Linked DNA regions of Homo sapiens: all the other regions are linked to region 5. The links come from fine-mapping of genetic effects on gene expression. A gene starts in region 5. Each other region holds a variant in brackets. All regions are shown on one strand. Distances are from middle to middle. Region 1 overlaps NEDD4 (NEDD4 E3 ubiquitin protein ligase). Region 2 has its middle 25 kb from the start of NEDD4. Region 3 overlaps PYGO1 (pygopus family PHD finger 1). Region 4 overlaps NEDD4 (NEDD4 E3 ubiquitin protein ligase). Region 5 holds the start of NEDD4 (NEDD4 E3 ubiquitin protein ligase).

Region 1 (6,338 bases), 120 kb after region 5:
GGTCTGTGTGTTTCATGTTATAAACTTTCCCCAAATATTTAGTAGTCCATAACTGCCCATAATGTATAATATTCCAATATTTATTGGAAGGGTTTTGTTCATGGGCATCTACTGACTAGTGGACTTCACTTTGGGGTGAGCAGAGAGAATTAGTCATTTTATTGGAAGACTTCCTGGATTTAATATCTATAAGTCTGTCTCATTGGGTTGCTTAGTTGTTCCAGAGAGGAATTTTCTTTCCTGGGAAGTATATATTTGTCTGCCAGTATTCTAGAAGCCAAGTGAAACAAAGGAGTTGGAGAGGTCCTTATTGTTTGGTATTAGGACTTTCACTCATTCTCTCACTTATCTCTCTGCTGTCATCTACTCTTCCAGTCTCCCTTTTTTCTTTCTTTTACTGTTCATGTAAATTAAATCGGACAGCATGTACTCTTTTGTATCTTCTTTTTATAATTAAACTTTTCTGGCCAGGCACTGTGGCTCATGCCTATAATCCCAGCACTTTGGGAGTCCAAGTCAGGTGGATCACCTGGGGTCAGTAGTTTGAGACTAGCCTGGCCAACATGGTAAAACCTGTCTTTACTAATAACACAAAAAAATTAGCTGGTTGTGGTGGCACATGCCTGTAATCTCAGCTACTTGCGAGGCTGAGGCAGAAGAATCGCTTGAACGAGGGAGGCGGAGGTTGCAGTGAGTCGAGATCGCGCCATTGCACCCCAGCCTGGGCGACAAGAGCGAAACTCCGTCTCAAAAAAACAAAACAAACAAACAAAAAAACCACTTTTCTTTGAGATTTATATATGTTATTTTGTATATCCGTTCATTTCATTTCATCGCTGAGTAATTCTACTAGTTGTATATCCCACAGTTTTATTTTTCAAAGGACATTTATTTCCAGTTTAGGCTATTATGAATGAAATTCTGTGAACATTCTTGAAGAAGTATTTTAGAGGATATTTGTTTTTATTCTCTTAAGAAAATACAAGGAGCAGAATTTCTTGGTCATATACTGGTATATGTTTAACTTTATAAGAGAGTTTTGATTGCACCACACCCTGACCAATATTTGTTTTTGTCAGACTTTTTTTATTTTAGCTATTCCAGGGGGTTTGAAGTAGTACTGCATTGTGATTTTAATTTGCATTTCCCTGATGATTAATAGTGATAAGCATATTTTCATATAATATTTACCATTTATTTATCTTCTTGTTTGAAATATCTGTTCAAGTCTTATGCCCATTTTAATGGGACAGTTTTTCTGTTTATTATTGATTCATATTATTGACTTATAGTAATATTTTATGAATTGATCTCTTTATTATTATGAAATGTTTCTTTTTATTTGTGGTAATACTCATCATCATGAAATCTAATTTGTCTGATATTATTATAGCCACTTATACTTACTGTATACCTGATTATTTTTTCCATACCTTTATCTTCAATTTATCTGTATATTTGAATTCAAAGTTCATCTCTTGAGCCTGAAAGTAATAAGCACCTTGAACCCGGATCTTTATATCTAAATATGATTCTCCAGTAAAATTTATCAGGGTTCTCTGGACAAGTGGCTGATTGATTGTAGAGCAGGGATAAGAAGAGTATATGCTGAACCTGAATCATTTTTGTGGTGCCAAAAAGTAAGGAAGTACACAAAAAAATTGAGAAGATATCAGAAATGCACAAAAACTAACCTGAAGTGACTCTCAATGACCATATCTGGGACAATTTGAGTAAAAAAATAAGTAACAATAATGGATTATATCTTATAAGATAATATAAAACAAATATCAATGAGTCTATGATGATATAAATTAGAATGTATAAATGGGAGGAAGGGGAAAATTCTTTGCTTAAGCAGAATAATAATTAATTAATATAAAAAGAATAATGGAAATGGTAGAAATAGAAAGTCAACATTTGGCAAGCACCACAGTAATAATTGTTGCAGGCAAGAATCATCAATGGATGCTAAAGTTTGTGAGAAAAAGTTTGATGAGAAATGGGCTATTTACATAACCTCAAAGGCTTTTCCCACAAGATACTGTTAATTACAAAGGGGAAAATATTGAGAAACATGGAAGACAGCACCTTAACCAAATGATTGAAGTTAATACCATTAGTAATGCAACAAATCAGTATCGTGTGCCTCCTGATATGATGCACTGAGAAGGGCACAAGCATCACCTTTATGGTATTCTTGCAAAAAATGCATAATCTAAATTCAACCATGAAGAAATATTAGAAGGATGTTCTATGACTAGTCAGTACTGCTCAAAAATGTCAAGATTATGAAAGACAAAGAAAGACTAAGGTACTTTCCAGATTTAAAGAAATTAAATAGACAGGACTACTAAATGCAATATATGAGTCTGAATTGGACCCTGGACTAAAATTAGGCAGACAGTTGGTGAATTTTGAGTCAAGTCTGTAGAGTAGTTAATAGTATTTCTGGTTTTGATCATCATAATATGGTTATTTAAGATGTTAACATTTGGTGGATCTGGGTGAAAAGTATATGAGGATTCTCTCGCAGTATTTTTGCAATTTTTTTAAATCTGAAATTCTTTTAAAATGAGAAGTTGGCTGGGCACAGTGGCTCACACCTGTAATCCCAGCACTTTGAAACACCAAGGCAGGAGACTCGCTTGAGCCCAGGAGTTTGAGACCATCCTGCGTAAGATGGCAAGACTCCATCTCTTTAAAAAAAAAGAAAAAAGAAAAAAAAAGTGAAAAAAAAAGAAAAACATTTAATAAAATATTTTTAAACAATAATGATAGATGTCTTTTATAGGCAACATATGGTTAGATTTTGCATTTTTATTCAGCTTGACAATCTCTGTCTTTAATTGGACTAGTTTGTCATAATTTATATGGCTGGATTTAGCTCTCAGAATGTGCAGTTTATTTCTGTTCCTCTCATCTGTTTCTTTGTTTCTCTTTTCCTGCCTTATTTTGGGTTAGTCAGATATTTCCAATATTCCATTTTAACTCTTCTCTGTGCTTTTTAGCTCTGCAGTCAATTAATGATTAACTTATGTCAATCATACCACTTTATATAAAATATAAGTCTTGCAACAATATAGATTTGATTATTCCACCTATCTTGTGCACAATGTTGTCATTTTTATTACATCTACATATATTTTAAACCCATAGTATAGCGATACAATTTTTTTTTTGTATACAACAATTTGTTCTTTAAAAGATTGAGAAGGTACCTTAAAAAAAAAAAACTTTACCCACATATTTACCATTTTCTGGTGCTCTTTATTACTCTCTTTAGATCTGAATTTCTATCTGGTGCCACTTATCCTCAGCCTGAAGAACTTCCTATAGCATATTCTGTAGTGCCAACAATTTGTCTGCTGATGACAAATTATCTCTACTTTATCCGAAAGTATCTTTATTTTCCTTCCCTTTTTTATGGATAGTTTTTGCTAGATACAGAATTCTTGGTACATTTTCCATTTCAGCACTTATAGATATCATTCAGTTGTCTTCTGGCTTCCATTGTTTTTGACGAGAAGTCAACCATTATTTGTATTCTTATTCTCCTGTGTGTAATGTATTTTAGGCTGCTTTCAAGATTTTCTGTTTATCTTTTGTTTTCAGCGTTTAATA[A/G]TGGTGTGCCTACCCATGTTTTCTTTATGTTTATCCTGCTTCAGTTCACTGACTTTATTGACTGTCTCAGCTTGTGTTTTTCTAAATGTGTGAATATTTTGGCTGTTTTTTTCCCCAAATATTTTTCTGCCCTATTACCTATCCCCTTTTATGGAACTCCAGTTACACATACGTCAGACTGCTTGAAATTTTTCCACAAGTTCCCTTTATTTTTCATATTAGATAAATTCTGTCTCTATATCTTCAAGTTCATACTTTTCTCCAGTCATCTTCAATTGTCTTTTAAACCCATTTATTGAATTTTTTTATTTCATGTATTATATTTTTCAGTTCTAAAATGTACATCTGGCCGGCCGTGGTGGCTAACACCTGTAATCCCAGCACTTTGGGAGGCTGAGGCAGGCGGATCACCTGAGGTCAGGAGTTTGAGACCAGACTGGTCAACATGGTGAAACCCTGTCTCTACTAAAAATACAAAAATCAGCCAGGCATGGTAGTGCATGGTGCATGCCTGTAATCCCAGCTACCTGTGTGGCTAAGACAAGACAAATCACTTGAACCCAGGAAGTAGAGGTTGCAGTTAGCTGTGATTGCACCACTGCACTCCAGCTAGGGTGACAGAGCAAGACTCTGTCTCAAAAATAAAATTAAATAAAATAAAATGTGCATTTGATTCATTTTTAGTTTCCCCTTCACTGCTGAGGTTCCCCATCTTTTCATTCATTATGACCTTATTTTTCTTTTAAGTCCTTTGAACATCTTTATAATAGCTGCTTTATTTTCCTTGTCTGCTTATTCCATGATCTGCGTCATCTTGTGGCTGGTTTCTGTTAATTACTTTTTCTCTTCCTACTGGGTTTTTTTTTTTATTTCTTTGCATGTCTAGTAATTTTTTTATTGTGGGCTGGACAATGAATATAGTAACTAATAGAGACAGTGAATTTTATTATATTTCCCTGAGGAGAGTTGATTTCCTTTTTTTTTTTCTTTTTGAGCGGAGTCTTACTCTGTCACCCAAGCTGGAGTGCAGTGGCATGGTCCAGGCTCACTGCAACGTCTGCCTCCTGGATTTAAGCCACTCTCCTGCCTCAGCCTCCCAAGTAGCTGGGATTACAGGCATGTGCCACCACACCTGGCTAATTTTTGTATTTTTCGTAGAGATGAGGTTTCACCGTGTTGGTCAGGCTGGTCTCTAACTCCTGACCTCAGGTGATCCGCCCACCTCGGCCTCCCAAAGTGCTGGGATTACAGGTGTAAGCCTCCATGCCCAGTGTTGATTTTTGTTCTAGCAAGTTAACATAGCTGAACTCCAAATTCTGCTTCCCTTTTGGTGAACATCAGCTGAAATCAGTGCTGAGCCCTCTCAGTCTTCCATCTGTTGATTTTCACTTGTTCAGTTCAGAGTAAAACTAGGGATTTAGGTAAGAGTTTATATATAGATTTGGAAGAACTCTGGTGGCTTCTTTTTTTCTGGGACGTTTCTCCTCTTTTTCTAGATATGCTGTCAACCCCAAACTAGGCCTTCTGACTCCTCAAGCCAGTAATAGTGCAGATTTCAGCTTAAGTTCTAGGCTCTCTGCATTATGTGGACTGTAGAATACTACTAGAGGAAAAGCCATATAAATACTGAATCTTACCTAGTGTAGTTCCTTCTTTGAAGGATTGACATCCCTCCAGTTTCTGCTTGTTTGGGGTCATTCTGTTGTACTTTCAAATAGCTCTTTTAGTATTTTGTCACAGAATATAATTGTTATCTGCAGAAGGATTAATCTAATATATGCTACTCTGCCATTACCAGAAGTTGTACCACATTACTTTTTATTTTCCATTGATGCTGCATATGACTGAATAAAAAAAAAACTCTACATTTTCTGTGAATGGTGGCACTATCTCATCAAACTCTTCTAAAGGAATTGAGCGTATTACTAATTATATTTTTTCTTCCTTCTCTTATAGACAAGAGATGATTTCCTAGGTCAAGTGGATGTTCCACTTTATCCATTACCGGTTGGTATAGGTGTCCATGATTTTCCTTTTGGGCTTATTTTTTTAATTTAATAAATACTTACATATATAATATAGCTACTGTAAATAATTGATTTATCAAATGTATACTACTTTTATTTATTGAGCATACTGTTTTCTAAAAACTCATTTCAATTTTCCGTTTCCATTTTCTCTTTAAGATTTCCGTTCATGAACCCCAGTGAGAAATAGAGAATTTCTGATGTTTGTTGGCATTGTGAAAACATTGTGTAAAAAAGATTAGTTTGAAAATATTCTGCTGAATAACTAGAATGAGGAGTGCCTAAGCTCACAGAAGAAAACTAAGATAGTTTACGACAATGGAAACATAAAACACTAAGAATCAGGACTAAGAATATAGCAAGGAGAAAAACAGATTCAGGAAACATTGCAAAATAGAACATTATTGAATCACATGTCTGACATGGAGGCTTAAGAAAATAAGCAAGAAGTAAAGATAATACAAGTTGAACTTGGAAGATAAGAGTGGCGTCTCTTGTAGAAAAGTGAGGAAGAAAAGCCATTTTGTTTTGAAAAGCAAAAAATTTATTTTTGGACAAACAGAGTTTTGATAGGAAACAAAGAAAATGAAAGTTTAAAGTAGACTGCTGACAGAGAGATAAAAATCAGCTAGGTAGGGAAAAGGGACTGGAAGGATTGAGTGTTATCACTGTCCAGATAACAGCAGA
Region 2 (6,338 bases), 25 kb before region 5:
AAACAAAACAAAACATGGAAAAAGAATCAATATTGTTAAAATGGCCATGCTGCCAAAGGAATCTACATATTCAACACTATTCTTATCAAACTACCAATGTCATCTTTCACAGAACTAGAAAAAAACTATTCTAAAATTCATATGGAACCAAAAAAGAGTCTGAATAGCCAAAGCAATTCCAAGCAAAAACAACAAAGCCAGAGGCATCACATTACCTGACTTCAAGCTATACTACAAGGCTACAACAAAAACAGACACATAGATAAATGGAACAGAATACAGAATCCAGAAGTGAAGCTGCACACCTACAGCCATCTGATCTCGACGAAGGTGACAAAAATAAGCAATGGAAAAAGGACTTACTATTCAATAAATGGTGCTGGGATAACTGCCTAGCAATATGCAGAAGAATGAAATTCAACCCCTACATTTCACCTATCTTATTACAAGATGGATTAAGATTTAAATTTAAGACCTCAAACTATAAGACTACTAGAAGAAAACCTAGGAAACACCATTAGGGACATTGGCCTTGGGAAATAATTTATGACTAAGTCCTCAAAAGCAATTGCAACGAAAACAAAAATTGTCAAGTGGGACCTAATTAAACTAAAGAGCTTCCACACAGCAAGATAAATTATTAACAAATTATATGGACAACCTACAGAATGGAAGAAAACATTTGCAAACTACACATCTGACAAAGGTCTAATATCCAGAATCTATAAGTAACTTAAACAATTGAACAAGCAAAAACAAATAACCCCATTAAAAACGGAGAAAAGACATGAACAGACACTTCTCCAAAAAGAAAAAAAAAAAACACAAGCAGCCAACAAATACATGAAAAAAATGCTCCATATCACTAATCATTAGAGAAAGGCAAATCAAATCACAATAAAATACCATATCATACCAGTCAGAATAGCTATTCTTAAAAAGTCAAAAAATAACAGATGCTGACAAGGCTGCAGAGAAAAGGGAGCATGTATACACTGTTGATGAGAATGTAAATTAGTTCAGCCAGTGTGCAAAGCAGTTTGGAGATTTCTCAAAAAACTGAAAACAAAAGTACCATTTGACCCAGCAATCCCATTACTGGGTATCTATCTAAAAGAAAATAAATCATTCTACCAAAAGACATATGCATCTATATGTTCATCGCAGCACTATTCACAATAACAAAGACATGGGATCAACCTAGGTGCCCATCAGTGGTGGACGGGATAAAGAAAATGTGGTACATACACAACAGAAACATTACGGAGTCATAAAAAAAAATGAAATCATGTCCTTTGCAGCAGCATGGATGTAGCCATTATCCTAAGTGAATTAACGCAGGAACAGAAAGCCAAATACCGCGTTCTCACTTATAAGTGTGAGCCAAATATTGGGTACTCATGGACACACAGATGGCAACAATACAAACAGGACTACTTGGGGTGGGAGTGGACAATGGTTGAAAAACTAAATTATTTTTTAAAGAATGTTCATTTTTCATTTCACGGAATTCTAAAAATGTGCCAGGTATAATTAACAGCTGTTAATTAGATTCAACTGTGCTCCTTTTCCTTTCTTTTGATTACAGCGCCCCTCTTCGCAGTAAGGAGTCTGTTCATGCAGTTCAGGTGGGGCTAACACGCTTGCACCTGCCCTAGATGAGGGAATGGGTACAAGAAAGCCCAATCAGACTATTCTCTTAGATTAAATACATAGAGCTTGGGAGATAAAGGGTTTATCTTATGGGCTTGGGGGTAAACTAAGAATTACATAGACTTGGGACTACTGGTAGCTGTTGTGCTGCTGAGTAGAGAGAACCTCTTCAAGAACAAAGCCATGAAGAGACAACAGAGGGATGGAAAAAAGAGAGACCTGAAACTCTCAGATCTAGTCATTCCTGGAATCAGATTTACCTCCTTGGACTTTCCAGGTATATCCAGCAACATACAATTGATTCTTATTGTATTAGTCAGGGTTCTCCAGGGGGACAGAACTAATAGGATGGATGTAGATGTATACATGAAAGGGAGTTTCTTAAGGAGAATTGACTCACACGATCACAATGCGAAGTCCATGATAGGCTGTCTCCAAGCTGAGAAAGAAGGAAGCCAGTAGTGGCTCAGTCCGAGTCCAAAAGTCTCAAAAGTAGGGAAACTGACAGTGCAGCCGACAGAGCCCCCGGCAAAACGCTGGTGTAAGTCCAAGAGTCCCCGAAGAACCTGGAGTCTGATGTCCAACGGCAGGAAGCATCCAGCATGGGAAAAAGATGAAAGTTAGAAAACTCAGCAAGCCAGCTTATCCCACCTTCCTCTGCTTGCTTCGTTCTAGCCTCTCTGGCAGCCAATTGGATGGTGCCCACCCACATGGAGGGTGGGTCTTCCTCTCCCAGTCCGCTGACTCAAATGTTAATCTCCTCTGGCAACACCCTCACAGACACACCCAGAAACAATACTTTACCAGTTATGTAGGCATCCTTCAATCAAGTTGACCCCTAATATTAACCACCACACTCATTATTCATGGATTCTGTATTTGCAAATTTACTTACCTACTAAAGCGTATTTGTAACCCCCAGATTAATACTCTTGAAACTATAAGGGAGTTTTAAACCTTCCCCCTACTTTCTGAAGGTTTGATAATTTGAGTCTCTGGAATAAACTGACAGCATACAGATTAACAAGAGAAAAGGCATACAGTTTTATTATGTGCATGCACGTGGGAGCCTCACAAATTATAAGATTCAAAGAAGGGGTAGATGGTCAAAGTTTTTATAGCATCCTGAGCTATAGAAGGAAATAGGGGCTTGAGGCTTCTGTGGGGAGGTGGTGACAGGTTATGAGAGGGTGAGAGGAGGAAATTTATAGTGAACAAAGTTGTCTTGTTATACAGAGAAAATATCTCAAGTAGCAACCCTCAGAACAGTTGGGCTGGGGGCAGTGGCTCATGTCTGTAATCCCAGCATTTGGGGCTGAGGCAGCCAGATCGCTTGAGGTCAGAAGTTTGAGATCAGCTTGGGCAACATGGAAAAACCCCACATGCCTACAAAAAAAGAAAAAAAAAATAGCTGGGTGTGGAGGCACATGCCATGGTCCCAGCTACTCAAGAGGCTGAGGCAGGAGGACCCCTTCAGCGTGGGAGCTCAAGGCTGCAGTAAGCCACAATAGTGCCACTGCACTCCAGCCTGGGTGATAGGAATGAGACCCTATCTCAAAAAAAAAAAAAAAAAAA[T/AAT]ACAGGAAGAAGAAGAATAGGTGGCAACTTTTGACAAAGTCTATCTGGGCAAGGTACCAACCTTTAGTCTCCTCTCCTGTGATATAATTAATCTTCCCTAGCTAATGAGATTGCAGAGAGGGGACAAATGAGTCCCTTTTGGAGGATCCATTTTTAGGCAAGTAAGGGAAATTCAGAGAGAGCTCCCTCTTGCTCTTCAGGAGAGAAGGACAAGAGACAAGAGCACAGGAGAAAGTCAGTGAGACCTTGGTTCAACTTCAGTTCAAAGCACTCAGCATGCCACAGTGCCATACTATGGGGTATTGTTTTCTGAGCCCCAACAGTGCTTTCACAATCATTCACTGACATGTATGTACAGAGTAGTGAAAAATTTGAGTCACCTGATGTGCATGTTTCCAGCTGAGGTTCAACAAGACGTCTGCTGTCTTGCTTCACCTCTCACACTGTAAACAAATGTCCTTTTTGCAATCTATTTAGTGCCACGTTTTTCACATTTTGTGCTTTTCGTTGTTTTCACTGTTTAAAATGGCCCTGGAGCTTAGTGCTAAAGTGCTGTTTTGGTTAGCGTTCCTGAATACTAGGCTGAGATGTGCCTTACAGAGAAAATATATGGGTTAGATAAGCTTTGTTCAGGCATGAGTTAGCATGTTGGTAGTTCAGTGTTAATGAATCAACAATACGCATTAAATGAGATGTCTTTAAGCCAAAACACACATAAAACAAGGTTATGTATTGATCCATTGATGAGAATATTGTGACCGGAGGCTCCCTGGAACCTAACCTTTTAAGTCTTCTGGGAGTAATGGTTCAGTATTCACTAATGCAGTGTTTATGGCAACTTGATAGAACATAACTACTGCACGTAATGAAAACTGACTGTATTCTCCTTTTGCTTAAGTTAGTTTGAGTTGGAAGAAGAGGCACATAATGTAGTAAGGGGCTGAGGGAAGGCTTTATGAAAGAAATGACTTTTAAGTGAGTAGCATTTTACCAGGAAAGAGAGTGGGAGAAGAGAATTCCAGGCTAAGAAAATAGTCTGAACAAAGATCTTAGGGTGACAAGGAGCAAGGCATGTTTGATGATCCAAAAGAAAGCCAGTGCAGTTGGACCACAAAAATCAAGGGAATAATAATGTGAGAATTTAAAGAAGGTAGAAAAAATATATATATAGTGGATATTCTTGGTGCCTACCTGTAATCAATTTCCCACACCTTCCTTCTCATAGATCCCCAATTTTGTTCTGGTATCCATCCTTATCCAACCTTTGGGATTAGGGAAAGCTAACACCATCCTCAGCTCACAAAGTAAGGACTGGTTAAGGTAAACTAACCATGTAATCTCATCCCTGGCCAGCAAATGGTTTAGGAATGGGAATGTACCTCAGTGTTGGCCAATAAAATTTGAGCTACTAATAGCTTTTGGGAAAGTTCTTTATATTTGAGTGATAATAATGGAAAGTAGATCTCACTGTTCCATATTGAATGTAAGCAAAGAAACCTGTTGCTTAATTTGTGTCCTTGAGGGAAGCCAGCCTGAGAACAAAACCTACACGTGGAGAATGGACTCGCAAACACTGCAAGAAAATCAGGCTAGAACTTTGATTATGTTGAAACTGCCTTTGCAAAATTATGACAGTAAGAGAAATCTGACATAGTTGATTCCATCTTGCTTCTGACCTCCAAGCTATCCTCGGTCTTTCCTGGGTGTGGGCCAAGCTAACCATGGGGAGAATTTAGTTTATAGTTTAACCTTAAAGCAGGGATAATAACAGCCCTTCCCAAAACTAAACTGCATCTGTAAAACGAATAAAAAGCCACAAGCTTCGGATTATGAGAGGGTGCTGAACTCTGCTAAAATGTAGGCATAGTTTCTAATCCCTTACTGCTCAGGAGTCATGTGACCAGAGGTCACAAGATTTGTGACCTTCCCAATTGCTCCTATATAACATCACTATTACAGAACCTATAATTAGTTTGAGATGTTTTTCAGATGGACTCCACCTGAACTCATGACTCAATGAATCCTGTGGCCCCACCCAGAGGCAGACTCAGCCCATGAGGACTATTTTCCACACCCCTACGATTTCATCCCCAACCAATCAGCAGCACCTACTCCCTAAAAACTCCCAACCTCCAAATCTTCAGAGACTGATTTGAGCCCAGTTCTCCCTCATGGGCTTGCCTCATGTCAATTAAACTCTTTCTCTACTGCAGTGCTGCCATCTCAGTGGATTGATTTTGTCTGTGCAGTGGAGAGGAAGAACCTGTCCGGCAATGACTATATGGTACCTGAAGTCTGCATATATCAAGACATTTGGTTATATAAGCCACCTTCACTGTTTAAGGAGTGGAGTTGGTTTTCTGTTAATTGAGGTGGAAAGCCTCTTAACTAAAACAATAGGTGTCCAGGTTCAGTCCCCTAAGTGATACATCTAAGATGAATGCAACTGGATGGCGGATTGGGAGCTCTGGTGAGCAAGTTATTGAAGCCACCTGATATGGCTTGGCTGTGTCCCCACCCAAGTCTCAACTTGAATTGTATCTCCCAGAATTCCCATGTGTTGTGGGAGGGACCCAGGGGAAGGTAACTTAATCATGGGGGCTGGTCTTTCCCATGCTATTCTCATGATAGTGAATAAGTCTCATGAGATATGATGGGTTTATCAGGGGTTTCCGCTTTTGCTTTTTCATCATTTTTTCTCTTTTCACTGCCATGTAAGAAGTGCCTTTCACCTCCCACCATGATTCTGAGGCCTCCCCAGCCATTTGGAATTGTAAGTCCAATTAAACATCTTTTTCTTTCCAGTCTAGGGTATGTCTTATAAGCAGCATGAAAGTGGACTAATACAGTAAATTGGGACCAGTAGTGTGTGGCATTGCTGAAAAGACACCTAAAAATGTGGAAGCGACTTTGGAACTGGGTAACACAAAGAGGTTGGAACAGTTTGGAGGGCTCAGAAGAAGACAGGAAAATGTGGGAAAGTTTGGAACCTCCTAGAGACTTGTTGAATGGCTTTGAAAAAAAGGCTGATAGTGATATGAACAATAAGGTCCAGGCTGACGTGGTCTCAGATGGAGATGAGGAACTTGTTGGAACTGGAGCAAAGGTGA
Region 3 (5,000 bases), 420 kb after region 5:
TGTGTTCCATGGTGAATGTGTGTGTTTTTATGCCCGTATTACTGTAGCTTTGTCATATAGTATGAAATCAGGAAGTGATTTTTTGTTCACTTGTTTGTCAAGATTGCTTAGGCTATTCAGAATCTTTAGTGGTTCCATATGAATTTTAGGATTTTTTTTCTTTTTCTGTGGAAGATGCCCTTGGAATTTTGATGGAGATTATATTGAATCTGTAGATAAAAACTCCCTAAAAACCCTATTGAGGGACACAGAGGAAGACTTCTAATAAATGGAATAGTATTCCCTGTTGTGGCTAGCCATCTGGAACAAAATAACATTGTTTTTTACCTCACATTATCCCAAAATAAATTCCAAATGGAGTAAAGATATGACATAAAAATATGGCCATATTACGAAAAAATAGCTTGATGGTTCCTCAAAAAATTGAAAATAGGATGTATTAGTCTAGTCACAGAAAGACGAATACTGGATGATTTTCACGCTGCTGATAAAGACATACCCAAGACTGGATGATTTATAGATAAAAAGAGGTTTAATGGACTTACAGTTCCATGTGGCTGGAGAGGCCCCACAATCACGGTGGAAAGCAAGGTGGAGCAAGTCACATCTCACGTGGATGGTGGCAGGCAAAGAGAGAGCGTGTGCAGGGAAACCCCTGTTTGTAAAACCGTCAGATCTCGTGAGACTTATTCACTATCATAAAACCAGCATAGGAAAGACCTGCCCCCATGATTCAGTTACCTCCTACCAGATCCCTCCCACAACACATGGGAATTCAAGATGAGATTTGGGTAGGGACACAGCCATACCATATCATAGGATAAACTCTCCAACAATTTCACTTCTGTGTATATATCCGAAATAGTTGAGAATAGAGTCTCAAAGAGGTATTATAACATGTATGTTCTTAGCAGCATTAGTCACAGTAGCTAAAAGGTAGAAACAACCGAGGTATGCATCTACAGATAAATGGATAAACAGAATGTAGTATGTGTATACTATACATGGAATATTATTCAGCCACAAAAAGGAAGGAAATTCTGACACATGCTATAGAACCTTGAGGACATTATGCTTAATGAAATAAGTCAGTCACAGAAAGACAAGTACTGGATGATTCTACTTGTGTAAAATATCTAGAGTAGTCAAATTCATAAAAGCTAAAAGTAGATGAGGATCATAGGGGATGGAGAAGGGGAAAATGGGGAGTTGTTGCTTGATGGATATAGTTTCAGTTTTACAAGATGAAAACATTCTGGAGGTTGGTTATGCAGTAATGTGAATATACTTAATACCACTGAACTGTATACTTTAAGATGGTAAATTATATATGTGTTTTACTACAATTAAAAGTTAAAATTAAAAAATTAAGCCATAAAAATATTAGGAAAAAAACCTGAGAGAATTATGTTTTATTCTCTAAAAATGGGGATTGCTCTTTTAAGCATAAGACAAAGCCCAGAATTAAAAAATAAAATATTGATGCATTTTATTACATAAAATTATTTTTTAAAATTCTGGATAGCATTATAGAGGAAACTGGGTACAGGGTATGTGCAAATTCTCTTTACTATCTTCACATTTTTATAAATGTAAAAATCTAAAATTTAAAATGTATTTAAAATTTTATAACAAGAAATCAAAACATAATAACCTGATGAAAGTATTTACAGTTTAAATATGTTCAGTTTTTTTTTTTAGTATATGAAAAGCTTCCATAAATCACTAAGAAAAGGATGAAACACTCAGTAGAAAAATGGCAAGGAATATTAGCTCCCAAGTGATTCCAACATGCAGCCAAGATTGAAAATGACTAGTTTAGATATTTTTGATAAATCAGAGTAAAATTTGAAAAAATTTTTCTTAAAAACAAAAGCAGGCTTCTTTTTCCCCAAGATGGCAGATTAGAGGCTTTTGGCATGCCTCAGCCACCTGGAAATAGCAAGATAGTACATAAAGATCAACTCTGTGAGCTTTAATTCAAAAAGGAAAATGAGTATCCAATGGAATTGTGAAGGACACCCTCAATCCCAGAGAGGAGAACACTGGCAAACAGCCCCCATGATGGCATCCAGTTGATAAAAGTGAGTGAGGCCTAAGTATGTGAAAGAGGTAGAGAGCCCCTCTCTCTGACTGACCTTTCCACTGGGGATCTGAGCAACTCAGGTAGAGGGAAAGCCCTTTGTTTCTCCCAAGCCCTGGAGCTAACATGGGGAAAATCTTGGAGACACTGTGAGGGAAAGACACTGGGAAAAGCTGCAGGTATTTTCCAAGACCCTGAGAGCAGGATGCCATTTTAAATCTGGTTGTGTACAAAATCAGGAATTCCTTGGTGACCTGGCAGTGCAGCTATATAGGCATTTTAGTCTCAGGCTAGAGATTGGAGTGCCTGCTGTGGAGTGGTAGATATGTCTATAGGACCCCAATGGCAGGCACAGCCACCATCCATCAACCACAGAATATACATTCTTCTCATCTGCACATGAACATACTCTAAGATTGACCACATGCTTGGCTGTAAAGCAAGTCTCAATAAATTCAAAAAAATTGAAATCCTACCAACAGTACTTTTGGACCACGGTGGAATAAACATAGAAGTACCAAGAAGATCTCTCAAA[A/G]TCACACAATTGCATGGAAGTTAAACAACTTGCTCTTGAATGACTTTTGGGTAATGAAATGACATCTGGGTAATGAAATCAAGGCAGAAATTTAAAAAATTCTTTGAAATAAATGAAAACAGAGGCACAACATACCAAAATATCTGGGATGCAGTGGCAACAGTATTAAAAGGAGCATATGTAGCACTGAACATCACCTCAAAAAGTTAGAAAGATCTCAAATTAATGATCTAACATCACACCTAGAAGAACTAGAAAAACAAGAACAAACTAATCTCAAGGCTAGCAGAAGAAATGAAATAACTAAATCAGAGCTGAATATAACAAATTGAGACACCAAAATCCATACAAAGTATCAATGAAACAAACAAACACCCTAGGATCAAATGAATTTATAGCTGAATTCTACTAGAAATTCAAAAAGAGAAGAGCTGGTACCAATTCTACTATTCTAAAAAATTGAGGAGGAACTCCTTCCTTACTCATTCTATAAAGTAGAATGAGTCCCATCATCCCAATACCAAAACCTGGCAAGGACACAATGAAAAAAAAAAGAAAGCTATAGGCCAGTATCCCTGATGAACATAGATGTAAACATACTTAACAAAATACTAGCAAACCAAATTCAATAGCACATCAAAAAGTTAATTCACCATGATTAAGTAGGTTTCAGTCCTGGGGTGCAAGGTTGGTTCAACATAAGCAAATCAATAAGTGTGATTCACCACATAAACAGAATTAAACATAAAAATCATATAATCATCTTAATAGACATGAAAAAAGCTTTTGATAAAATCTAACATCCTATCACGATAAAAACCCTCAGCAAACTAGGCATCGAACGAACATACTTCCAAATAATAAGAGCCCTCTATGACAAACCCAGAGCCAGCATCATACTGTATAGGCAGAAACTGGATGCAGTACCCTGAGAACTGGAACAAGACAAGCATACCCACTCTCATGACTCCTATTCAGTACAGTACTGGAAGTGTTAGAGCACTCAGGCAAGAGAAAGAAAAGGCATCCAAATAGGAAAAGAAGACAAACTATTTCTCTTTGCTGACAATATGATTCTATACTTACAACACCCTAAGGACTCCACCAAAAGGCTATTAGAATTTATAAACAATTTTAGCAAGGTTTCAAGATACAAAATCAACGTTCAAAAACTGGTACCATTTCAATATACCAGTAATATACAAGCTGAGAGCCACATCAAGAAAGCAATCCCATTTACAGACACACACACACACACACACACACACACACACACACACACACAGTACCTAGGAAATACGTCTTAACCATTGAGGTGAAACATCTCTACAAGGAGAACTAAAAAACACTGATAAAATAAATCATAGATGACACAAACAAATGGAAAAACATTCTATGCTCATGAATTGAAGGAATCAATCTCATTAAAATAGCCACACTGCTCAAAGCAGTCTACACATTGAACACTATTTCTATCAAACTACAATGGAATTTTTCACAGAATTGGAAAAAACTGTGTTAAAATTCATACGGAACCAAAAAAGAGCCCAAATAGCCAAATCAATCCTAAGCAAAAAGAACAAAGTTGGAGGCATCACATTACTTTACTTCAAATATAAGGCAGCAGTATCAAAAACAGCATGGTACTGGTACGAAAACAATTTAGACCAATAGAATGGAGAACCTAGAAATAAAGCCACATACTTGTAGCCATCTGATATTTGACAAAATTGAGAAAAACAAGCAATGGTGAAAGGCCCAGTAAATGGCGCTGGGATAGCTGGCTATCCATATGTAGAAGAATGAAAATGGACCCATACCTATCACCATGTACAAAAATTAAGATGGATTATAGATTTAAATCTAAGGCCTCAAACTATAAGAATCCAAGAATACCCAGGAAACACCATTCTGGACAACAGTCTTGCAAAAGAATATATGACTAAGTCTTGAAAGCAATTGCAACAAAAACAAAAATTGACAAGTAGGATCTAATTAAACTAGAGAGTTTCTGCATAGCAAAAGAAACAACAGAGTAAACAGACAACCTACAGAAGGGAGAATATATTCACAAACTGTGCATCTGACAAAGGTCTAATATCCAGAATTTATAAGGAATTTAAACCATTGAACAAGCCAAAAACAAACAACCCCATTAAAAATGGGCAAAAGGAGTTTGAGACCAGCTTGGGCAACAAAGGGAGACCCTGTCTCTACAAAAAATAAAGAAATTAGCCAGGTATGGTGGCACATGCTTGTGGTCCCAGACACGTGGGCAGCTGAGGTAGGAGAATCTCTTGAGCCCAGGAGTTTGAGGCTGCAGTTAGCTGTCTTCACACCACTGCACCCAGCCTGAGTGATAGAGCCAGACCCTGTCTCAAA
Region 4 (6,338 bases), 50 kb after region 5:
CTTTATCTAATTCGCCAGTCTGTGTCTTTTAATGGGGGCATTTAGCCCATTTACATTTAAGGTTAATATTGTTATGTGTGAATTTGATCCTGTAATTATGATGTTCACTGGTTATTTTGCTCGTTAATTGATGGAGTTTCTTCATAGCATCGATGATCTTTATAATTTGGCATGGTTTTGCAGTGGCTGGTACTGGTTGTTCCCTTCCATGTTTAGTGCTTCCTTCATGAGCTCTTGTAAGGCAGGCCTGGTGGTGACAAAATCTCTCAGCTTGTCTATAAAGGGTTTTATTTCTCCTTTTCTTATGAAGCTTAGTTTGGCTGGATATGAAATTCTGCATTCAAAATTATTTTCTTTAAGAATGTTGAATATTGGCCCCCACTGTCTTCTGGCTTGTAAGGTTTCTGCTGAGAGATTTGCTGTTAGTCTAATGGGTTTCTCTTAGTGGGTAACCTCACCTTTCTCTGTGGCCGCCCTTAACATTTTTTCCTTCATTTCAACGTTGGTGAATCTGACAATTATGTGTCTTGGGGTTGCTCTTCTCGAGGAATATCTTTGTGGTGTTATCTGTATTTCCTGAATTTGAATGTTGTCATGCCTTGCTAGGTTGGGGAAGTTCTCCTTGATATTATCCTGTAGAGTGTTTTCCACCTTGGTTCCATTCTCCCTGTCACTTTCAGCTACACCAAACATAGAGTTGGTCTTTTCACATAGTCCCATATTTCTTGGAGGCTTTCTTTGCTTCTTTTTATTCTTTTTTCTCTAAACTTGTATTCTCACTTTATTTCATTAATTTCATCTTCAATCAGTGATAGCCTTTCTTCCACTTGATTGAATCAGCTACTGAAGCTTGTGCATGTATCACAAAGTTCTTGTGCCATGGTTTTCAGCTCCATCAGGTCATTTAAGGTCTTCTCTACACTATTTATTCTAGTTAGCCATTGGGCTAACCTTTTTTCAAGGTTTTTAGGTTCCTTGCAATGGGTTAGAACATGCTTCTTTAGCTTGGAGAAGTTTGTTTTTACCGACCTTCTGAAGCCTACTTCTGTCAACTCATCAAAGTCATTCTCCTTCCAGCTTTGTTCTGTTGCTGGCGAGGGGCTGCGATCCTTTGGAGGAGAAGATGCGCTCTGGTTTTTAGAATTTTCAGCTTTTCTGCTCTGGTTTCTCCCCATCTTGGTGGTTTTATCTACCTTTCATCTTTGACGTTCGTGACATACAGATGGGGTTTTGGTGTGTATGTCCTTTTTGTTGATGTTGATGCTATTCCTTTGTGTTTGTTAGTTTTCCGTCTAACACTCAGTTCCCTCAGCTGCACATCTGTTGGATTTTGCTGGAGGTCCACTCCAGACCCTGTTTGCTTGGGTATCACCAGTGGAGGCTGCAGAACAGCAAATATTGCAAAACAGCAAATATTGCTGCCTCATCCTTCCTCTGGAAGCTTTGTCCCAGAGGGGCACCTGCCTGTATGAGGTGTCTGTTGGCCCCTACTGGGAAGTGTCTCCCAGTTAGGCTACACGGGGGTCAGGGACCCACTTGAGGTGGCAGTCTCTTGTTATCAGAGCTCAAATCCCATGCTGGGAGAACCACTGCTCTCTTCAGAGCTGTCAGATAGGGACATTTAAGTCTGTAGAAGTTTCTGCTGCATTTTGTTCAGCTATGCCCTGCTCACAGAGGTTGAGTCTATATAGGCAGTAGGCCTTGATGAGCTGAGGTGGGCTCTGCCTAGTTTCAGCTTCCCGGCTGCTTTGTTTACCTACTCAAGCCTCAGCAATGGTGGACACCCCTTACCCCACCAGTCTGCAGACTGGCAGGTCGATCTCAGACTGCTGCGCTAGCAGTGAGCAAGGCTCTGTGGGCATGGTACCCGCCAATCCAGGCATGGGAGAGAATCTCCTGGTCTGCCAGTTGATAAGACCATGGGAAAAGCACAGTATTTGGCCAGAAGTGTCCTGTTTTTCCAGGTACAGTTTATCACAGCTTCTTTTGGCTAGGAAAGGGAAATCCCCTGACCCCTTGCACTTCCGAGGTGAGGCAATGCCCCATCCTGCTTCGGCTTGCCCTCTGTGGGCTGCACCCACTGTCCAGCCAGTCCAAATGAGATGAACCAGGCACCTCAGGTGGAAATGTAGAAATCACCCGTCTTCTGCGTCAATCATACCGGGAGCTGCAGACAGGAGCTGTTCCTATTTGGCCATCTTCCAATCATTACATCTTAAAGCTCCAAAATAATCTCCTTTGACTCTGTGTCTCACATCCAGGCCACACTGATGCAAGGGGTGGGTTCCGAAAGGCCTTGGGTGTCTCCACCCCTGTGTCTCTGCAAGGTACAATCCCTTCAGCTGCTTTCACAGGCTAGTGTTGAGTGCCTAAGGGTTTTGCAGGCAAACAGTGCAAGCGGTTAGTCAATCTCCCATTCTGGGGTCTGGACGATAGTGGCCTACTTCTCACAGCTCCACTAGGCAGTGTCCCAGTGGGAACCCTGTGTGGGGACTCCAGTCCCACATTTCCCATCCACACTGCCCTAATAGAAGTTCTCCATGAGGGCTCTGCCCCTGCAATATCCAGACTTCTGTGTGGATATCGACACATTTCCATACATCCTCTGAAATCTAGGAAGAGCTCCTAAGCCTCAGCTCTTGCCCTGTGCCCACCTGCAGGCTTAAAACCATGTGAAAGCCACCAAGACTTACGGTTTGAACCTTCTAGAGCAGCGGCCTGAGACATATCTGGGCCCTTTTACCCACAGCTGGAGCTGGAGTGGCTGGGACTCAGAGAGCAGTGTCCCAAGGTTGTGTAGGGCAGCAGGGCCCTGGGCCTGGTCTATGAAATCATTCTTCCCTTCTAGTCCTCTGGGGCTGTGATAGGAGGAGCTGCCACAAAGATCTCTAAAATGCATTCAAGGCATCTTCCCCATTGTCTTGGCTATGAACATTCAGCTCCAGCAGCTGGCTTGAATTCCTCCCCACAAAATGGGGCTTTCTTTTCTACCACATGATCAGGCTGCACATATTCCCAACTTTTATGCTCTGCTTTCCTTTTAAATATAAGTTCCAGTTTCAGATCATTTCTGTGAATGCATATAAGCATATGGTTAGAAGCAGCCAGGCCACTTCTTGAACACTTTGCTGCTTAGAAATTTCTTCTGCCAGATACCGTAAATCATCTCTTTCAA[G/T]TTCAAAGTTCCACAGATTTCTAGAGCAGGGGCACAATGCTGCCAGTCTCTTTGTAGAAGCATAGCAAGAGGGACCTTTATTTCAGTTCCCAAAAGATTCCTTGTCTTCGAGACCACCTCAGCCTGGACTTTCCTGTTCATATCACTATCAGCATTTTGGTCACAACCATTCAACAAGTCTCTAGGAAATTCTATCTTTCCATCATCCTCCTTTCTTCTTCTGATCTCTCCAAACTGTTTCAACCTCTGTCCATTACCCACTTCTAAACTTGCTTCCACATTTTCAGGTATCTGTATAGCAATGCCTGACTTCCCATTACCAATTTTCTGTATTAGTTTGTTCTTGCATTGCTATAAAGAACTCCCTGAGACTGAGCAGTTTATAAAGAAAACGGCTGTAATTGACTCACAGTTCCACAGGCTGTACAGGAAGCCTGGATGAGGGGGCCTCAGGAAACTTAACAATTGTGACAGAAGGTGAAGGGGAAGCAGGCTCATCTAACATGGCCAGAGAAGGAGGAGGAGAATGAAGGGGGAAGTACTACACACTTTTAAGCAACCAAATCTCATAAGAAGTCGCTTACTATCACCAGAGCAGCAAGGGGGAAGTCTGCCTCCGTGATCCGGTCACCTCCCATCTGGCCCCTCCTCCAACATTAGGGATTACAATTTGACATGAGATTTTGGCAGAGACATAATTCCAAACCATATGAGATACCATACAAACACCAGAAAAAATATGTTAATGGTTGTATTAACATTAGCCAAATTAGACTTCAGGACAGTATTGCCAGAGATAAAGAGGGCATTTCATGATTATAAAGAGTGAATTCAACAAGAAGACATACAATCTGAAATGTGTATGGACCTAGTAATCTTTAAAATTACGAAGTCAAAATTGACAGAACTAAATAAATAAACAAATCCACAATAGTTGATTTTACCACTTCTAGTAACTGATACAACAACTAGACAAAAAAAAAATAGTAAATATATAGATGATTTGAACAACACTACCAATCATGTTAACCTGTTTGACATGTATAGTACACTACAGCTAATACCCAAGTGTATATTCTTTTTATATGCCCATGGAACATTTACCAAGATAGACCACATATTGGGCCACAAACCGAGTTTCAGTACAGTTAAAAGGATTGAAATTCAACAGGATTGGCTGGGCGCAATGGCTCACGCCTATAATCCTCGCACTTTGGGAAGCCGATGCAGGCATATCACTTGAGGTCAGGAATTTGAGACAAGCCTGACCAATATGATGAAACCCCGCCTCTACTAAAGAAAAAAAGTATACAAAAAGTAGCTGGGTGTGATGGTGCGCACCTGTAATACCAGCTACTTGGGAGACTGGGCACGAGAATCGCTTGAACCTGGGAGGCGGAGGTTGCAGTGAGCTGAAATTGTGCTGCTGGACTCCAGCCTGGGTGACAGAGTGAGACTCTGTCTCAAAAAAAAAAAAAAAGAAATTTAACAGGGTATGTTCTCTGATCACAGCAGATTTAAGTTACAATTCAGTAACACACGTATGTATATCACAAATGTTTAGAAATTAAACAAGTTTCTTTTGAATAAGCCATGGATCAAAAAAGAAAATAAAAGGGAAATTAACAAGCATTTTTACTGATTGATTGTTAAAGCATAACATACCAAATGTGGGATGAAGCTATTTCAGTGCTTAGAGATTAATTTATACCTTTAAATACTTGTATATAAATGAAGAAATATTCAAAATCAATGATCTAAGCTTCCACCTTAAGTTCTTTAAAGAAAAAGAAGGAAGGAAATAAGAGTGGAAATCAATGGACAAGAAAATGGACAAAAAGTAGAGAAAATAAATAAAACCAAGGATGGATCTTCAAAAAAATTAATGAAATTGATATACAACAGCTGGCCTTATATGAGAGAGACAGAGAGAGTACTCAGATGACCAATATTAGGAATCAGAGGAGGGAACCTACAGATACTTTTTAAAAGGTAATATTGTAACTAATTTTATGCCTGTAATTTTAACAACTCAGTTTAAATGGATAAATTCTTATAAGCCAAAATATACTAAAACCAATATAAGTAGAAACAGAAAATATGGATATCTGTTAGAGGAATTAATGTTATAATTTATTTTTTATTTTAAAAAATTTAAGGTGCTTATAATTTAAAAATATTGCCATTCTTTTTGATGATCTTATTCTTTTATTAGAAAGAATGTTTGGCCTGGCATGGTGGCTCATGCCTATAATACCAGCACTTCGAGAGGCCAGGGTGGGCCCCCTAAAAGTTTAAGGTCATCCTGAGCAAAATAGTGGGACCCCATCTCTACCAAAAAAAAACGACCCTCTTCACAAGGCATGGTGGCACACACCTATAGACCCAGCTACTTTGGAGGCTGACATGGGAGACAATTCTTTGAGCCAAGGAATTCGAGGATACCGTGGGCAACATAGTGAGACAGTCCCAAAAGAAAGAGACAGAGAGAGGCAGAGAGGCAGAGAGAGAGAGAGAGAGAGAGAGAGAAGGGGGAGGAGGGAAGGAGGAAGGAGGGAGAGAGGGAGGAAGGACTACTTTGGAATTAGAGATGTTAATGAGAAAAATAAGCCATTTAAACAAAATTTTAACTGATTTATTGGGGGTATAGTTCATATAGAAAAAGCCTGCACATATTTAATTCATACAGTTTGATAGGTTTAAACATATGCATACAGCTGTGAAACCATCACCACAATCAAAGTCATAAACATATCCATCACCTCCAAAAGTTTCCTCCTATCACCCCCTTTTTTGTGGTAAGAACACTTGATATGTACCCTCTTCACAAAGGTTTTGGTGTATAATATAGTATTAAACCACCATTCTATTCTCTGCTTCTATGAATTTGACTATTTTAGATACTTTTTGTGAGTAAGATAGTCAGTATTTGTTCTTCTGGGACTAGCTTATTTCACCTAGGGTAGTGTCCTCAAGGTTCATCCATTTTGTTGGAAATGGCAGGGTTTCCTTTTTGAAGGCTGAATAATATTCTATTGTATGTATATGTCACATTTTCTTAATGTATCCTTCAATGGGTATTTAGATTATTTCCATATCTTGGCTACTGTGAATAATGCTGTAATGAACGTGGGAGGGCAGATAACTTTAATTGCAGTGATTT
Region 5 (6,338 bases):
TTTCTTGCACTACTGAGCTCTGGATCTGAGATGGGCTCTATGAAGAAAGTAGCTGAAACTATGGTAATGGCAATGGCAATGGATGAGGTCCAGGGAGTTTCCAGTGGAAGAAAAAATGAACCTTAAAAATCTCAAACATTAACTATTAGAAAGGAAGCAGCCAGGGGATATTAAGAGTAAGAGAGAATTAAAGGAGAACTTCTGAACAAGACTTTTTTATATCCCTTAGGGAATTAATTACCAACATTAAAGTGCATTTCGTATCATTACCTTTCATATTGTTACATTCCACATCCAATTTTGATCCCAGGGGGTGATATTTTAAAAACTAGAAACAATTTCTGCATCACAGTGAAATCTATAGGCAGAGTTAAAGAGGTTTACGTATACAGACTACTAGAAAGTCTAGACCAGGTTTACTGGTTTTCATTCATTTCTTGCTTCTTAATCAGTTTGGAGGCTCATGTAAAGGCAGATTTGAAGGGAGAAAAGACTCAAGAACAAGAGATAGAAGGGGTGATGCTATTGGAGGTTGCTAGAATTGCCTGGATTTTGGCTTGGGATGATCCCTAGCACAGGTATGAGGCACAGAATCAATTGTTATGCACCATGTCACATTCTTCACACGTGCCTCACATGGTTATACACACACTCAAACCAAATCAACATGAACCTAATTGAAGGCAGCCTAGGTAGACAAAACGCCTTCATGAGAGTTCTGCGCAGTTGAGTGATATGTAGAGGAGTTCTTCATTCTAAACAGCTTTCTCAGTGGTGGTTGGTTATTGGACCACCAGCTGATATCACCATCCCGATTTGAGCTTCCTTTAATTTCAGGTGCCCCTCCTAGCTGTTGACCGGGATACAATAATTACTCTAGTTCATCTTGTATTGGTAGCTGTTTAATTCTTCATGATTTCATATTCGGAAAGACAGAATAAGAAATCATGAGTCAAATCAGTGGTCTTTAGAAGTATCATCACTAATACCTATTGGATACATCAAATGGCCAATTTGCTTTACTTTATAATCCCTTGGGGATTTACTGATTTTTTTTTTTTTAATTACCAGTTTTAGGCTGTGTATACTTCTCATATATTCATTAAATTTTAGTAGCAGTAACGGAAGCTGTTTTTACACGTTTGTAATTGTGCCCTGAAATGACACTGAATTAACTTAAATTCAAATGACTTAACTAACTTAAAATTAAACATAAAAATGTGTATCATGAGAGATGAGGGAAATATTCGCAAAATAGAAGGGCACACAATATTTTCAGATTATTTTATTCTTAACCCACAAATCCCACAGATATGTGACAACTTAAAAAACAAATTAATGCTCTCATGGCTTTTTCGATTTAGGTAAGCCAACAATTCCTGACCATTCTGTAATTTTGTAGTCATGTTTGATTAAGTGCCATCTCTTTCCCCCTAATACGGATAAAATCTGAATTGTGTATTAACAGAATTTTGATACATATTATATGAATGAAATGGATCCTACCAATCATAAAGTACGACAATTGAGGTGGAGTCTTGTTCTGTCGCCCAGGCTGGAGTGCAACGGCGCAATCTTGGCTCACTGTAACCTCCTCCTCCCAAGCTCAAGCGATTCCCTTGCCTCAGCCACCCAAGCAGCTGGGACTCCAGGCGCCCGCCACCACGCCCAGCTAATTTTTGTGTTTTTAGTAGAGACAGGGTTTTACTATGTTGGCCAGGTTGGGCTCGAACTCCTGACCTAAGGTGATTCACCGCCTTAGGTTTCCCAAAGTGCTGGGATTACAGGCGTGAGCCACCGCGCCCGGCCAAGTACGAGAAAAATCTTACGTAACAAACCAGTAATATGGGCTATAGCCTTGTTCCCACGTAGCATCTTAAACTGTTAAAAATAAATCAGAGTTATTCTGAAATCATTGAGGAAAATAAAAATTAGATTTTGAGATTGCAGAATTCTGCAAATTTCTGCAAATGTATAAAAACAACATGATATAAATTGTGGCCTGGGTGTTCATAATTCTCCCCAGACTCTTTTATGGATGCCTTATTTGGTGGAGGTCTTCCTGTAATTATGGAATTATAAAGCCCATCAGACAGGAATATTAAAAAGCATGATTATTCCATAACCTTATTCCACAGGAGGAGTTATTCCACAGGAGGAGTTATTCTACAGGAGGTCCTAGTTCACTTTATTTTTCCCTCTTCGTCACTGCCTTCTGGTGGTGCTGCGGATCAACGCCCAGCTAAAGCAGGTTTAGAGGGTCAGCCTGGAGATTGGATTGTTACTGGTGGGATTTAAAGATGGACAGACCATAGGACAACAAATAGCTTAGGAACTGGCACTGTTTACAAATCCTAGGGAGAGAATTTCAGATCCCGAGTCCAAGACTGCTGCGATCCCTCCAGGCCTCCCCATTTGCTGCCACGCTCAGGCTTTCCCTGGCGGTCCCCAGGTCCAGCTTCTTATGGGAATGACACCCTTAACCGACAAGAAAGCGCTATGATTTTCCGTTTGGGATTTAAGCGGGGATTAAGCTCACGGATTCCCAGGCGTCTAGTCAGAGGCCGAACTCTGGGTCGGATCTCAGCGAGACTTGTTGCTGAGGAACACTGCAGCTTGGCTTCCCGGCGCTTCCCGGCGCTCCCTGGCTCCCCGGCGGGCCCGTCAACCACCCACCTCCCGGGAAGGGACCGAGGGCGCGCCCCGCCACGCGCGCTCCCCACGCCATGGTCCCCGCCGCGCGCGCTCATCCCACCCGAGCCCCGCCGCACGCCCTCCCCACTCCCCGAGCCCCGCCACGCGCGCCCCCGCCCAGCCCCAGGAGCGCGCGCCGCCGGCCTTTTCCCGCCGCGCTGCCGGGTGCCGCTAGTGCCCGCTCGCCGCGGGAGGCGCTGCTGTCGCTGAGGGAGCGCCTCCTCCTCTTCCTCCAACTCTTCCCCGCCTCCTCCCGCTTCTCCTCCTCCTCCTCCACAGTTGCCTGCCCTGGGCGGGGGCGAGCGCGTCCGGTTTGCTGGAAGCGTTCGGAAATGGCAACTTGCGCGGTGGAGGTGTTCGGGCTCCTGGAGGACGAGGTGCGGGGACCGCGGGGCTGCGGGGCGGGCTTCCCTTCGGGTTATTCAGCAGCCGGACCCGGGGAGGTAGCGGCGGCGGCCACGACCGGAGGCTCTGCTGTCAGCCCCTCCTCCCTCGGCGCGAGCCTGGGGAGCGCGCGAGGCGCCGCGGGGACTGTGGGGGCGGCTCGGCGCGCGGGCGCTGGGGGCTCGCTGGAGGGAGCAAGCTTGTCGGGTCCACACCCGCCCCTTCCCGGAGCGGCCGCCGCCTTACTTGTCAGTTTCCTTCAGGAAGTGTTGAGGAGGGGGCTAGGCGGTCGGCGGGGGACCCACATCACCGCGCCAGCCCCTTCCTGCCACCCCCGCCGGGTGTGCGGAGCTCCCAGGCGTTGGGAGACGGTCGCAGCATCCCCGCTGTTGATTTGCTTGCTCTGGCGGAGGCCGGGCCGACTTAACTTTACGGACTTCGGTCTGGAGAGTTCCAAGTGAATTGTCATTCGCTGGTTTGTTTTTTTCTTCTTTATCTGAAATCCTTTTTAATCCCCTAACTAGAGACAGGGATGGGAGAGCAGGAACATAAATTTTCCTCCTCCTCTTTAGCAACAAGTGTCTAGTGTGAGAAGTTCATGCTTTATTTCACCGGTCGTCGTTGATGTTAAAAAGTGAAGCCAAAAAAGTATAAATACTTTATAAAGAAGTTACCACATCTGTTCCCTTTGAAAACTAGATTAAGCTCTGGGATTTGAAGAAGGCAAAGCTGTTTCTTTTCAGCTAAATAACTAATGCTGATTATGCCTATGCTTATTAAAAATATTGTACGACCATTTGGAAAGGTTGTTCCGTCGTAAATGATATGTGGCTTCTGTGTGTTCTTGGAGATTGTCTCAAAAATGCAAATGGGTGGGAGATGAAAAGGCTGCATGTAGTCTAACAGTGACTGGTTCCGAGTGAAAAAAATCAAGTTTTTTGCTTTCTTGTTGGCTGACTAAGCTGCCACATGTACCTTTTATCAAGATGAGACCCAGTTAACTGAAAATCCATCAACCTAATTTATACTGCTTGCTTAAGTATTGTAATATTTAAGTTGTATAGTTCCTTCTCTTAGTACCTTGGTGTCGTCAAACATTTTACACTTCTCTTGAGAGTTCTTTGTTTATAAAGGGTGGGCAATTTGTTAATGCAGTTATTTCAGGATATTTTGAGAATGCTTACGTGATGCGATTAGAATTTAATTTCCTAGCTATTGCTGCCAGAAGAGAAATAAAGTGATGATGGACAAATGGTGGCGGCTCATAGTCCCTCAGAAACAATAGTCAATGTGTTACAGCTAAAGATATCATTCTAGCTAATGGCACCTTTATTCTGTAGACGAGATCAGAAGATAATACAGCACTTCACCTGTGGTCGCTTTCTTATCAGTCAGATTTCCCTGCTTGCTACGTAGACTGCCCAGTGCAGTTGACTTCAAGGTGGTGTCCAACCCAATCAGGCTGACCTTGGACTTTCTTTCCCTGCTATATTCACAGGTAGGCCCTGCTAATTGCAGATTTCTCATCTCACCGCCTTCCAGCAGAGCCAGTTGATCTTAAAGAAAATAGTGCCAAAGGTATCATTCACCATCTGTTTTCTCCCTCTTGGTACATGATCAGTGTTTTTAATTATCTACTTTAGTAATTTCTCTGTTTTCAATCATCACCCCTCTGCCCAGCTGAAATAAAACTAATTGTGGCAGTTAATGGGTGGTCGGTAAGGAACTGGGGCCAAAGGCCAGAAACTCCACCCTTTGAAATGTGGATTTCCTGAACTTGCTGAAGGATTTGTACTTCTAGGAAGTTTCATGGACTGTGGCCTATCCCATTCACATTCTGGGAGTTCTGGCTGTCAGTTCCATGACTCTAATTTGCTTCTGTCCCCGCTCTATTTTGTCCACATTGAGGAAGGGAGTGAGATAGGAAGATAAGAGACATGATGATGAAGAGTCTTCCACTTCTTCCATTGTAATTGGATTATTCATTCAACAGACATTCATTTACTGTTTGCTCTGTACCATGCATTGTGCTAGGCACCAGGGATAGAGAGGGAAAAAAGACAGTCTCAGCCTCGGACTGAGGGAAAGATAAAAGTCACTTTTTTTCTTGTGGAGGTTGCCCTCTCCACTATCATTTGCCATTTATTTTCTGGTCTATCACAAAAGTAAAAGAAGGATTGAAACCACACTCCCCCATCCTCCCCACCCCCAAACACCCCTTTTGTTAAAGGAAGAAAGCATTGCAGCTATGTCACTTCTAAAACTCACAGACTAGTCTGGAAATAGGCAGCCCTCTGCTGTTGATTAAAAGTAAAGTGCTTTTTCATTACAACAAAAGGAGAGGATTCTTATTTTAAATTTGAAACTAAAACAGGGAGAAAAATAATTTGAAATGGGATAGAAGATAGTGAAAGAATTGTAATTTAATCAGTATATAGTGAATAGTCGCTGAGTCAGTGTCTGAGCATATTAGCACTGAAGTATGCTAAAATGTAGATCATAATACCTTTCTCTCACTTTTCAGTGAGTTTTGGCTCTTCTTCCACATATAAGTGACTTATAGTAAGAGATCACCCTGGCTGCATGTGCAGGATTTTACCTTTAAAGTGTTAACAAACAAAGGAGGAAGTGTAGTATAATTTATACCAGATTTGCTCTGGTCACTTGAGATTCACAGTAGAGAATAACATGCACTGATCTTTATTGGAGAGCAGTGTGGTGGATGCGGGGACTGGAATTGAGCATCACTTCCCACCTCCTTCCCATGCACCTCCCTGTGATATGGAGGTGGGAAAACTAAACACTGTTTCCCACACTCCATTGAAATTAATGGACTGGATCCAAAGTAGGCTCCCCAGTTAAGTGCACTTACTTGAGATTTGCAGAGTGGAAATGAGGTGGAGCATATTGTTTTGTTTCTTTGGCTTTTTCTGCTGATAAGCACAGTCATGTAAACATCTAAATTTTCTGCGAAAGTATTCCAGTATCTGGTAACTTGCTTTGTACATATTGATAGGAAGTCACCGAAGTAGTGGTGGTAGTGGCTTCCAGACGTCAAGATTGATTATATTCTTGAAGTCATCAGTTCTGGTGATGACTCCTGATCATCTACCTTTCTGACTGGGAGAGGTAGTAGCTTCCTGGATGGGTCAGTTCTGCCATGTTTCTGATCTTCTAGAACTGCAGTCCCCAACTGTTTTGGCACCAGGGACCGGTTTCATGGAAGATAGTTTTTCCATGGACCGGGGATGCGGTCCAGT

What was found. PIP is the estimated chance that this variant, and not a neighbour inherited with it, causes the effect.
Region 1: its variant is fine-mapped to the expression of NEDD4 in whole blood (TOPMed, PIP above 0.99). The same link has a PIP of 0.9 or more in neutrophils.
Region 2: its variant is fine-mapped to the expression of NEDD4 in prefrontal cortex (CommonMind, PIP 0.95).
Region 3: its variant is fine-mapped to the expression of NEDD4 in lymphoblastoid cells (GTEx, PIP 0.98).
Region 4: its variant is fine-mapped to the expression of NEDD4 in thyroid (GTEx, PIP above 0.99). The same link has a PIP of 0.9 or more in whole blood.

What each region holds. Positions count from the first base shown.
Region 1 is chr15:55,873,251-55,879,588 of GRCh38, reverse strand. It overlaps NEDD4 (NEDD4 E3 ubiquitin protein ligase), which reads left to right. Exons shown (of 29, transcript NM_006154.4): 6 at 5,581-5,631. Among named protein-coding and RNA genes, the nearest start is that of NEDD4, 120 kb to the left of the region's middle. The variant A/G (reference allele first, on the strand shown) is at 3,625.
Region 2 is chr15:56,015,284-56,021,621 of GRCh38, reverse strand. No RefSeq gene overlaps it. Among named protein-coding and RNA genes, the nearest start is that of NEDD4, 25 kb to the right of the region's middle. The variant T/AAT (reference allele first, on the strand shown) is at 3,229.
Region 3 is chr15:55,567,224-55,572,223 of GRCh38, reverse strand. The region is part of intron 1 of PYGO1 (pygopus family PHD finger 1); the gene reads left to right. Among named protein-coding and RNA genes, the nearest start is that of PYGO1, 19 kb to the left of the region's middle. The variant A/G (reference allele first, on the strand shown) is at 2,619.
Region 4 is chr15:55,939,885-55,946,222 of GRCh38, reverse strand. The region is part of intron 4 of NEDD4 (NEDD4 E3 ubiquitin protein ligase); the gene reads left to right. Among named protein-coding and RNA genes, the nearest start is that of NEDD4, 51 kb to the left of the region's middle. The variant G/T (reference allele first, on the strand shown) is at 3,176.
Region 5 is chr15:55,990,244-55,996,581 of GRCh38, reverse strand. It overlaps NEDD4 (NEDD4 E3 ubiquitin protein ligase), which reads left to right and starts at 2,970. Exons shown (of 29, transcript NM_006154.4): 1 at 2,970-3,071. The coding sequence starts at 3,027. RefSeq lists silencers at 1,764-1,961, 2,748-2,847, 3,088-3,437 and an enhancer at 2,940-3,722.